2 linked regions of the Homo sapiens genome follow. The protein of the gene in region 1 interacts with the protein of each later gene in a pairwise test. Each region holds a gene or a part of one and is shown on either strand. Other genes may lie near its edges.

Region 1 (3,500 bases):
AAGTGGCAGTGCTAGGTACTTCTCAGTGGAGGTTAATACCTGCACTGAATCAATATACTGAGAGTCGGCTAAAAGAGCCATAGAGACACTCCACACAGAGAAAGCAGAAAATGCAAGGGTAACAGAGTGAAGAGGTAACATTGCTGCTTTAAGGAGCTATAGAAAATTCAATATGGTTCAAGTTTAGAATGTCAGGAGCATGGGAATAGTTGAAACTGAAGAGATAGGCAGGAACTAGATCATGAGAGACATTATCATGTCTAACTAAGAAATTTAAACATCATCCCGAAGTTCACAGGCAGCTATAAAGTACTAAATGCAGGGGAGTAACCTGCTTTGCATTTCTGACAAATTATTCTGGCTGCAGAATGAAAAAAATAGATTGAAGGAATCATGGAGAACAGAGAATTTTAAAAGCTAACTCTTCAGCTGGGGGCGGTGGCTCACGCCTGTAATCCCAGCACTTTGGGTGGCCAAGGTGGGCAGATCATGAGGTCAAGAGATCGAGATCATCCTGGCCAACATGGTGAAACCCTGTCTCTACTAAAAATACAAAAATTAGCTGGGCGTGGTGACACATGCTTGTAGTCCCAGCTACTTGGGAGGCTGAGGGAGGAGCATCACTTGAACCCGGGAGGTGGAGGTTGCAGTGAACCGAGATCGTGCCACTGCACTCCAGTCTGAGCTACAGAGCGAGACTCTGTCTCAAAAAAACAAACAAAAAAAAAGCTAACTCTTCAACATTTACTATTGGCTAGACACTATCCTAAAGAGCGGCAGAAAGTAACTCATATAATCCTCATTACTAAAACTACAAGGAAGATACCATTATTATCCCAACCCTATAGATGAAATAACCAATGCATAGAGATGTTAACCTGTCCAAGGTCAGCTAATTAGTGATAGAGCTCGATTCCAACCCAGTCATGTCCTTAACCACTACGCTATTCTGCTCCATTCAGAGAGCTGCCATAGTTAACATAGGCAAAAAGCAATTATGACTGGCTGAAGTAATTCTGTGTCAATGGAATAGAAAAAAGAGGAAGGACTAAGGCAGTGGGTTTGTCTTTTAAGCACATAAACTCATCTGGATCACCCAATATGATAAGTAAGTAAATGTATTAGTCTTATGTAAGTAAATTTATTTTTTAAATAAGTAAACTTATTTTTTAAAACGTAAGTACAATTACTTTAAAATTTATTTTATTTACTGGTGTTTGGCCTATTTCATTTAGTACTAATTTTCTGTAACACAGAATACTGGTACAGTAACTAAATATCATCATGAGCATAGAAAATGGTGGAAGACCTATGGCTCTAAGCACTCAGGGCTTTGCTTGGATATAGGAGATCGTTTCAAACAGGTAACAACTGACTTTGAAGAAGAAAGGCTGTATTCCCTAACTGGAGGATGTGGGCTGTGATGAGTTACAGAAAGTATAGCAATACCTAATCCTTTTTAATAGGAAATTCCTATTTGCAATCTATTAACTCTTACACTGAATCCAAACCACACAATTCTACCCAAATGACACACAGTCATTTCCAGGAATATGCCATTTCCACTAAGTATTCAGTTAGTGAAGCATCTGTCTCTAAAAACAACTACTATGCAATGAAACAGCAATCTGAAATAAGTTCCAAAGACTGTATACCAGACAGTGCTTGTTGTAGTCTGAACACTTCTTCCACTGATGCACTCTGGGCAAGAATTCTTTCCTTTTCTGTCATAGTATCACTTTGCTTCACAGCAGAAGGCTGCAATTTACTACATTCCAATTTCAAGTTTTCACATTCTTCCATTATTTGTCTCTTTTCCACATTTAGCTGTTCTTGTTCTCTCCTCAAAATATCTCTGTCATTTTCTGCAGAAGATAATTTTTTATTTATATCTTTTATTTTATCCTCAAGTTGTTCCATTTTTTTGGTAGACTCCACTTTTTCTATTTGTAGAACTTGAATAGTTTTTTGCATCTCATAGATTTTAGAGAGATCAGTTTCTATAACTCCAGAGCCACCTAGAACATAAACACAAAACAATGACATCAAATGTCAAGTACCAAGAAATAAACGGTTTGCTATATACAACTAAGAGATATAAGACAGTTCAGAATTTGGAAAGCTTAAAAGTTAAATTACTATAATAAACTAAGTGTTTTAAAATAAATAAGTTGGGGGAAAATATTTGAATCAACTACATAAAGGCCTATGTATCTTAGTTTGAAAGAAAGTGATAATATCTCTAATCATTTATTACCAAAGTATCATCACCAAACAATGCAAAGAAATCTATAAATTATAACTATTTACCACAAAGGTAAAAAGGACATTTCCATTTTCACAGAATTTTTTTTTTTTTTTTGAGATGGAGTCTCACTCTGTTGCCCAGGCTGGAGGGCAGTGGTGCCATCTCGGCTCACTGCAACCTCTGCCTCCTGGGCTCAAGTGATCCTCCCACCTCAGCCTCCTGAGTAGCTGGGACCACAGGCGAGCACCACCACGTCCAGCTAATTTTTGTATTTTTAGTAGAGACGGGATTTCGCCATGTTGGCCAGGCTGGTCTCAAACTCCTGGCCTCAAGTGATCCACACACCTTGGCCTCCCAAAATGCTGGGGTTATAGCCATAAGCCACCACTCCCGGCCACAGAATCTTAAAAGCAGAGGTGCCACTGCAAATTTCTGGCAGATAAGCAGAACTAGTCATTTACACTTCCTTATAACTTAGGGCAAGTTTACAGCACTGTCCTGGTCTTAGAATGCTAGGTCTATCATTTAGTTATGTCATCTAATATGTTAAATTAATAAAACTATCAACTGGCCAGGTGCAGTGGCTCATGCCTGTAATCCTAGCACTTTGGGAGGCCGAGGTGGGTGGACCACCCGAGATCACGAGTTTGGGACCAGCCTGGCCAATATGGCGAAACCCTATTGCTACTAAAAATACAAAAATTAGCTGGGCATGGTGGCAGGCACCTGTAATCCAGCTACTTGGGAGGCTGATGCAGGAGAATCGCTTGAACCCGGGGGGCGGAGGTTGCAGTGAGCCGAGATCGCGCCAGTGCACTCCAGCCTGGGCAACAGATGGAGACTCCATCTCAAAAAAAATAATAATAATAAAGAAATAAAACTAATAACCTTGTTGTAACAGATTTTCAAGTTCTTCAATTCGTTCTTCATAGTCACTTAATTCTTCTCGATGTCGTCGACTTATTTCTGTCAATTTCTGTTGGTGTGCATTCTGCAGTACTGACATTTCATGTTGATGGTCATCAATTTCCTGACTTCGGTTCTGTTTTAGTTCCTTAAAAAATAAAAACAAAGTTATTCACATTTATAATCAATAAATTTATGTAAGCTATATATTTAACTGTTGTCCAAAAGTGTGCATTATTAAAAAGAATTCTCAGAACATGTTAAGGCTGAAAAGAATTTAAACACAGACCCAAAATTAGGACTATTCTGAACAACTTCACCCTTTCCTTTCTTAGGTCTCAAAAAC
Region 2 (5,298 bases), on another chromosome or scaffold:
CCCCTTCCCTCTCCCCCAGGCCCACTGGAAAACACCTGTTCCCCTGGACTGGGGGGTTAACTCTTCAAGTTCCAAAGACCTGGGCACAAAAATGCTCATCTTATCTCTCCGCGCCCCTCCCCCCAACTATATTTATGTTCTTTTCTTCAATGTTGTGAAAATGCCAGAAAATTCAAAGTTGCATTTCCCTTGCCGAATCTATGGGTTAAGATAAGGCAGTGGGAATGGAAGATTCCAGCAGCCCCACGGAGTATCCACTATGTCGTTCTGAATTCAAAGGGTGGAGCACACGGATGTTTTCTGCAGGTGACGCAAGGTCTGTCAAGGTGGCAGGAGGGAAGCAGGGACAGGATTTTGGTTCAGAGGTCAGACAGCTTCTGACCAGGACGTTCAGAAGGGTTGGGTTTCACAAATCTGCTCCTGAAAATCAGTTCCCTCCATATTATCCTTTTTCTAAAAATCTTGGCTGTTTCCTTGATGGAGTCTGTGGTAATCGTTACGCCTGCATTTAGGTGATGCTGATTTGGCTAGTGACTGCCTCTCTCACTAGCTAGACAGGAGCCTCCATAGTCTGAAATGCGTGCGAAGCCTGAGCGTGTCCTTAGCACAGAGCAGAGCACATGGTATGGAGTAGTGGAAATAGATGATGTTCCTTACGGAGTGAAAGGAAAAAGTGATAGGCAGAGCCTTTCTCCCCTCCTTAACTCCTGTCCACCTTCCTCCCTCCCGTCCACCTCTCTCTTCTGCCTCTAGCTGATTGGCTCCCCCTCTTAGTTTGCTTTCCTGGACTTGCTCTCCTGGTCCCTATCTTGCATTCTGACTAAACCACTGGACTCTTTTGCTCTACCCACCTTTTTCTGTCGTAGTGACTCAATCACGGTAGAAATGTTTATTTTCCAGAAACGCCTGTGGCTTGGGGCATTTTCTTCTCTTTTCAAAAAGAGATTCATATTTCGAGTATCTGATGGGACTTCATCACTGTTGCACAACAGCTATGTAATTGCTTTAGGTGCTCTTCCTGCCGTGCAGTGGGTCAAGTGTCACAGACAATAATTTCATCCATGTGCTGGACCCCTTGTTCTCAAGTGTACGCTGCTAAATGGCATGATTTAAAATTCCTATACAGTGTTTATTGCCCTGTCGCATTTTGAAAGCCAGCCAGAAACATCAAACCGACATTTAGGTTCCCCGCCCACTCCGCCACCCCCAGCTCTTGGGAATTCATTTCTTCATCAAAGAGCCACCCAGGACATCAAAACAAAGCTTACTTTCTCAGGCCTTAATTCATCTTTAAAAAGTCATACTACTGTTTTCTTCAGCATCCTATGGATTTATGGGTTTTTTGTCATTATCTTTATTTCTTATTTTGCAGATTCAAATATGACAGTTGCTATCTTCATCAAAGTAACATGAAAGGATATCTTAATCATTGTTAAAGTTGATTTTTGTCCAAATATAAAAATCAAATTAAGTGTCTTATAGCTTACAATATTTATCAGCTTTTGATTTTTGGACATCTCTATTTGTTCTATGTGATCAACGCTGATTTTTTAAAAATCATGCAACTGGATTAATTTTTGATCTTGAAGCCCCCTGGATTATGTAAATACATATTATGGTTTAACAGAGAGGGATGAATGGGATTGAGAAGATATATGTCAAGATATGAAGAAGGAAAGAGGCTACTACACAGAGAGTTAGAATGACAGGGATTAATGAATCTTGCCTGTATCCCTAGTTATTTTTTTTACTGAGAAGACAGTGAGTAAGATTTAAGAGTGAGCAAGCAGTCCTATTTATAGAAAGCTGTTTTTAAGTGCAGCCGCAAAGACAGTGAAAGAAAGAATTGAAAATGCAAGAGATCACCTCCATACTAAATGCTAGCTTCCCCTAACGTCCCAGCTCTGTACAGCATTTTGTAGGAGAAAAAAACAAAAAAAAAAGCATACCAACCCTTGCAGAAATATTATGAAATCTCTTTGGACTCTCTGCAGAATATTCTAGAAGTGCTCTCAGTCTTTAAGTCTATGTTAGGCTTGGGAAGCTGGGGATGAGAAGGCAATATATATATTATCTGGAAACAGCTTGAGTAGGTCTGAACAAAAGACTGGAGGTGAAGGGAGGACATTGAACTTGCAGCACTGCTACAAATATTTATTCTGCAATAAGCCTTGCCTTTCTTAAAGATGTTTCACGGCAGAATAGTAGGAGGGTGAAATCTGCATACATCTCAGTAATAAAGCAATTACTGAGAGAAGAGTTCAAATTTAGGATCCTGTGATTATCACAAGTCCCTCCATGTTAACCTGTTCTCAAACTCTGGGGTTTTAAATTGCAATATATGAAGTCCTTATTTGTCAGTCTGTGTCGGGCAGACAATATCACCCCAGGCTTTGTGATTGACACAAATGTTATTGGACAAGGGAAAAAGAATGCCACATGCTCTTATAAATGAAATAGTCTTTATAAGATTCCATATATAAGTGAGATCATGGATTTTGTATGTGTGTGTCTGGCATATATCACTTAGCTAATGTCCCCCAGGTTCCTTAAGTATATACAATTTAGCATAAAAAAAGAAATGAAATAGTTTTCCTTTCTAGGCCTGTATTTGTTACTTATAGCATTCTGGTTTTCCTGGTTCCAAGTGGGCTTTGGGTTTTATTAATAGTAGAATCGTTGAATTTTTATGCAAATACTGCTGATTTACAGGTTGGAAATCTGGACAAAATCAGACCTGCCCTAGAAGATGATGCTGTGGAAAGTGTTTGCCTTTTGTCTTATAAAGAACCATCTATAAAATGGATCATTTTGTCGCTAGTCTCTCCAGACTATGAAATTGGCATTTTGATAAGGTGATGGAAAGAAATTTGAACTATTTAATTACTGATTTTGATTCATACAAGCCTTGACTCTTTTAGTATTAAAATGAAGAAACAGGAAACAGTTTTAAGTCTGGTTTTACATAAAATTTACACTTTTTTCACACTGAAAATAAAACAGTAAAAGCCAGCTTATAGTTCTTTCTAAATATCCCAACTTTCTCATTATTGGATGCTTCTGCAAAACAGCAGTATGGTGATACCACTCCCAGTGTTGACCTTGATGACCTGAGGGTCCCAAAGTGGCTTCAGCATTATCATGGAGTCACCACAATGATCAGGTAGAAGCTGGTGTTAGGACCAGCGTGAATGGGTCACAGGGGCTGAGGGGGGCTGTTGGGAGGTAGCCCATGCCGTATACTGAAGAGCCATCCATGCCACTTCAGGTGGGTGATTGCAGTGGACTCTCTTACCATTGATTAATCTTCCTAATATTGAGTAAAGCATTGATTCTTCTCATAAGCATGAACTGCTGGATGATGGGAACATTTCTGTGATTGTATCATAAGAGAAAGACAAGTAGAAAGATAATTAGAACTGCTGCAATTCTATGTATATTTTAATTTAATTTATTTTTTTAAATACAAAAGACAGCTATATTTCCTATATAATAAGGAAACTTATTACTTTAAGGAAATATACTTTCTCACGAGAGAAACTCAAGATTCAATTCTTTTCACAGTTAGCCCCGCTGTGGTGTGATTTGATCTTGGGTTCCATAGAGATACAGAAAATCCAAGTCCCAGTCTGCTTAATTGCCATGTTTATTTTTTAATCTCGGCTGTAGAGCATTTTTAATAACTGATATGTAGCTTGCAGGGTAGAAATAACAATGCTTTGGAATATTACCTGTGAGACTTTAGGAATGAGCTGAAGACACCCAACAATGACAACAATGGCCTCTACCAGCAAAACGGGAACCATGACTACTTTATCACTCCTGCCGGATCTAGTTCTTGTCAGTTCCTGCAAAGGCTAGTCACTTGTCTATTTCGTTGGCTAGTGAAAAGGAAATGCACAAGAAATGTGGAATGCTGTCTAACAGACAGAATCCTCCTTTCACAAGTTGTTTAAGTTGGCAGCCCAAGTTAGCAACCTCTATCCGGGTCCTTAACGTGACAGCAGAATGTGGGTAGGATGGTTAATTACCAGATGTGTCTGTTATGACTCACCCAAATCAATAGCTATTAAATCCTTGGTGGCTACTGTTTTAGAATAGGCTTCATTGAATATTTGTATAGAAATCTGGGTAGAAAAATGTGGACCTCGAGGTGATCTAGGTATTTGTTTTGGGCAAGGAACTCTCATCAGTGGTTGGTTTATTTGTGTCTTGGGGGATCTCACATCATCAGCCTTTATTAATCACAGGCACGAGGGGCCCCACACTCTCCCCCATACCTCTACCGCCCCATTGCTGAGGATGGGAGAGTAAGAATATAGAATATGCTGTAGGCTTCTGTGGGATTAGATGCTTGGAGGCAGCGGAGGCAAATGTTCATGGGAACACTGAATATGGAGGAAGAGGCTGTGCCAGCCCCATAGCCACACATCCCCTCCACCCTTACATCAGGATAAGAGGTAGACCACAGTCTGTTGACACTTCAAGCTGAACATTAGTTAGTATCCTTCTATGTGGGCCTTCCCAGGTAAGGATCGAGGACACTGGTTCTCAACACCCCGGTGTTCTGGGTCAGGGAGAACAGAGAAAGGAGATATGGAAGTTTCCTGAAATGCATTTCCTCTCATTAGCCTCCTGTTGGAAATTCTGATGCCAGCGTTGTGGGGAATGGGCTGTAGTTTGGAAAGCTCCCCAGGTGTTTCTAATCCCATGTGACTTTGTCTTGTTTTTCCCACCACCACTGGGGTCTCCCAAGTTATGGTTTCCATGTTTGTTATGTCGTCTTCCAGCTCTGATACCAGAGAGTCTGATTCTGTAGCCTTGGTGTATGCACGACCTGTGAATTTGCATTATTAACGCATGCCTTTGCCTGTTCTGATCCACATGAACCATAATTCACCTTTGCAAAACACACACTTGCAAAGAAGCTACCCAAACAGTAGCTAGGAAGTTGATCCAGTAAAGTTCCAAGTACATCTCGATGAACTGTTGGAGAACTCTGTATTGGGTAGTAATTTATTGGGAATGTCTGTATACAGGGTTAGGTCTTCACTGACCACCATAAGAATTTGGGCATCTTTCGGGATAATTGGTGCTGGGGTTTAGTAACAAGAAAGATTCTGAGTAGAGGGGTATGTAGATCCTGCCAGAGGCACTCCCAATGTGGATGCTAGCAGCTTACGAATCATCTGTGTGTATTAATATCTATCTCTTTGCACCATTTTTTCTTCCTGTTAGCGTATTTGATATTCAGGTTTATAAATGCTTGTGCTTTGCTTATGGTCTTGATTCCATTGT

The links. Proteins that work in one complex are often made in the same cells at the same time.
Region 2: the proteins of TRIP11 (region 1) and DSCAM interact in a two-hybrid assay, tested with the Homo sapiens proteins (one large-scale study listed by BioGRID and IntAct).

What each region holds. Positions count from the first base shown.
Region 1 is NC_000014.9:92,012,560-92,016,059, forward strand, and holds part of TRIP11 (thyroid receptor-interacting protein 11), read right to left. Parts: intron 3,303-3,500; coding exon 3,137-3,302; intron 2,019-3,136; coding exon 1,656-2,018; intron 1-1,655.
Region 2 is NC_000021.9:40,836,282-40,841,579, reverse strand, and holds part of DSCAM (cell adhesion molecule DSCAM isoform CHD2-42 precursor), read left to right. Parts: intron 1-5,298. UniProt on the Homo sapiens protein: Cell adhesion molecule that plays a role in neuronal self-avoidance. Promotes repulsion between specific neuronal processes of either the same cell or the same subtype of cells.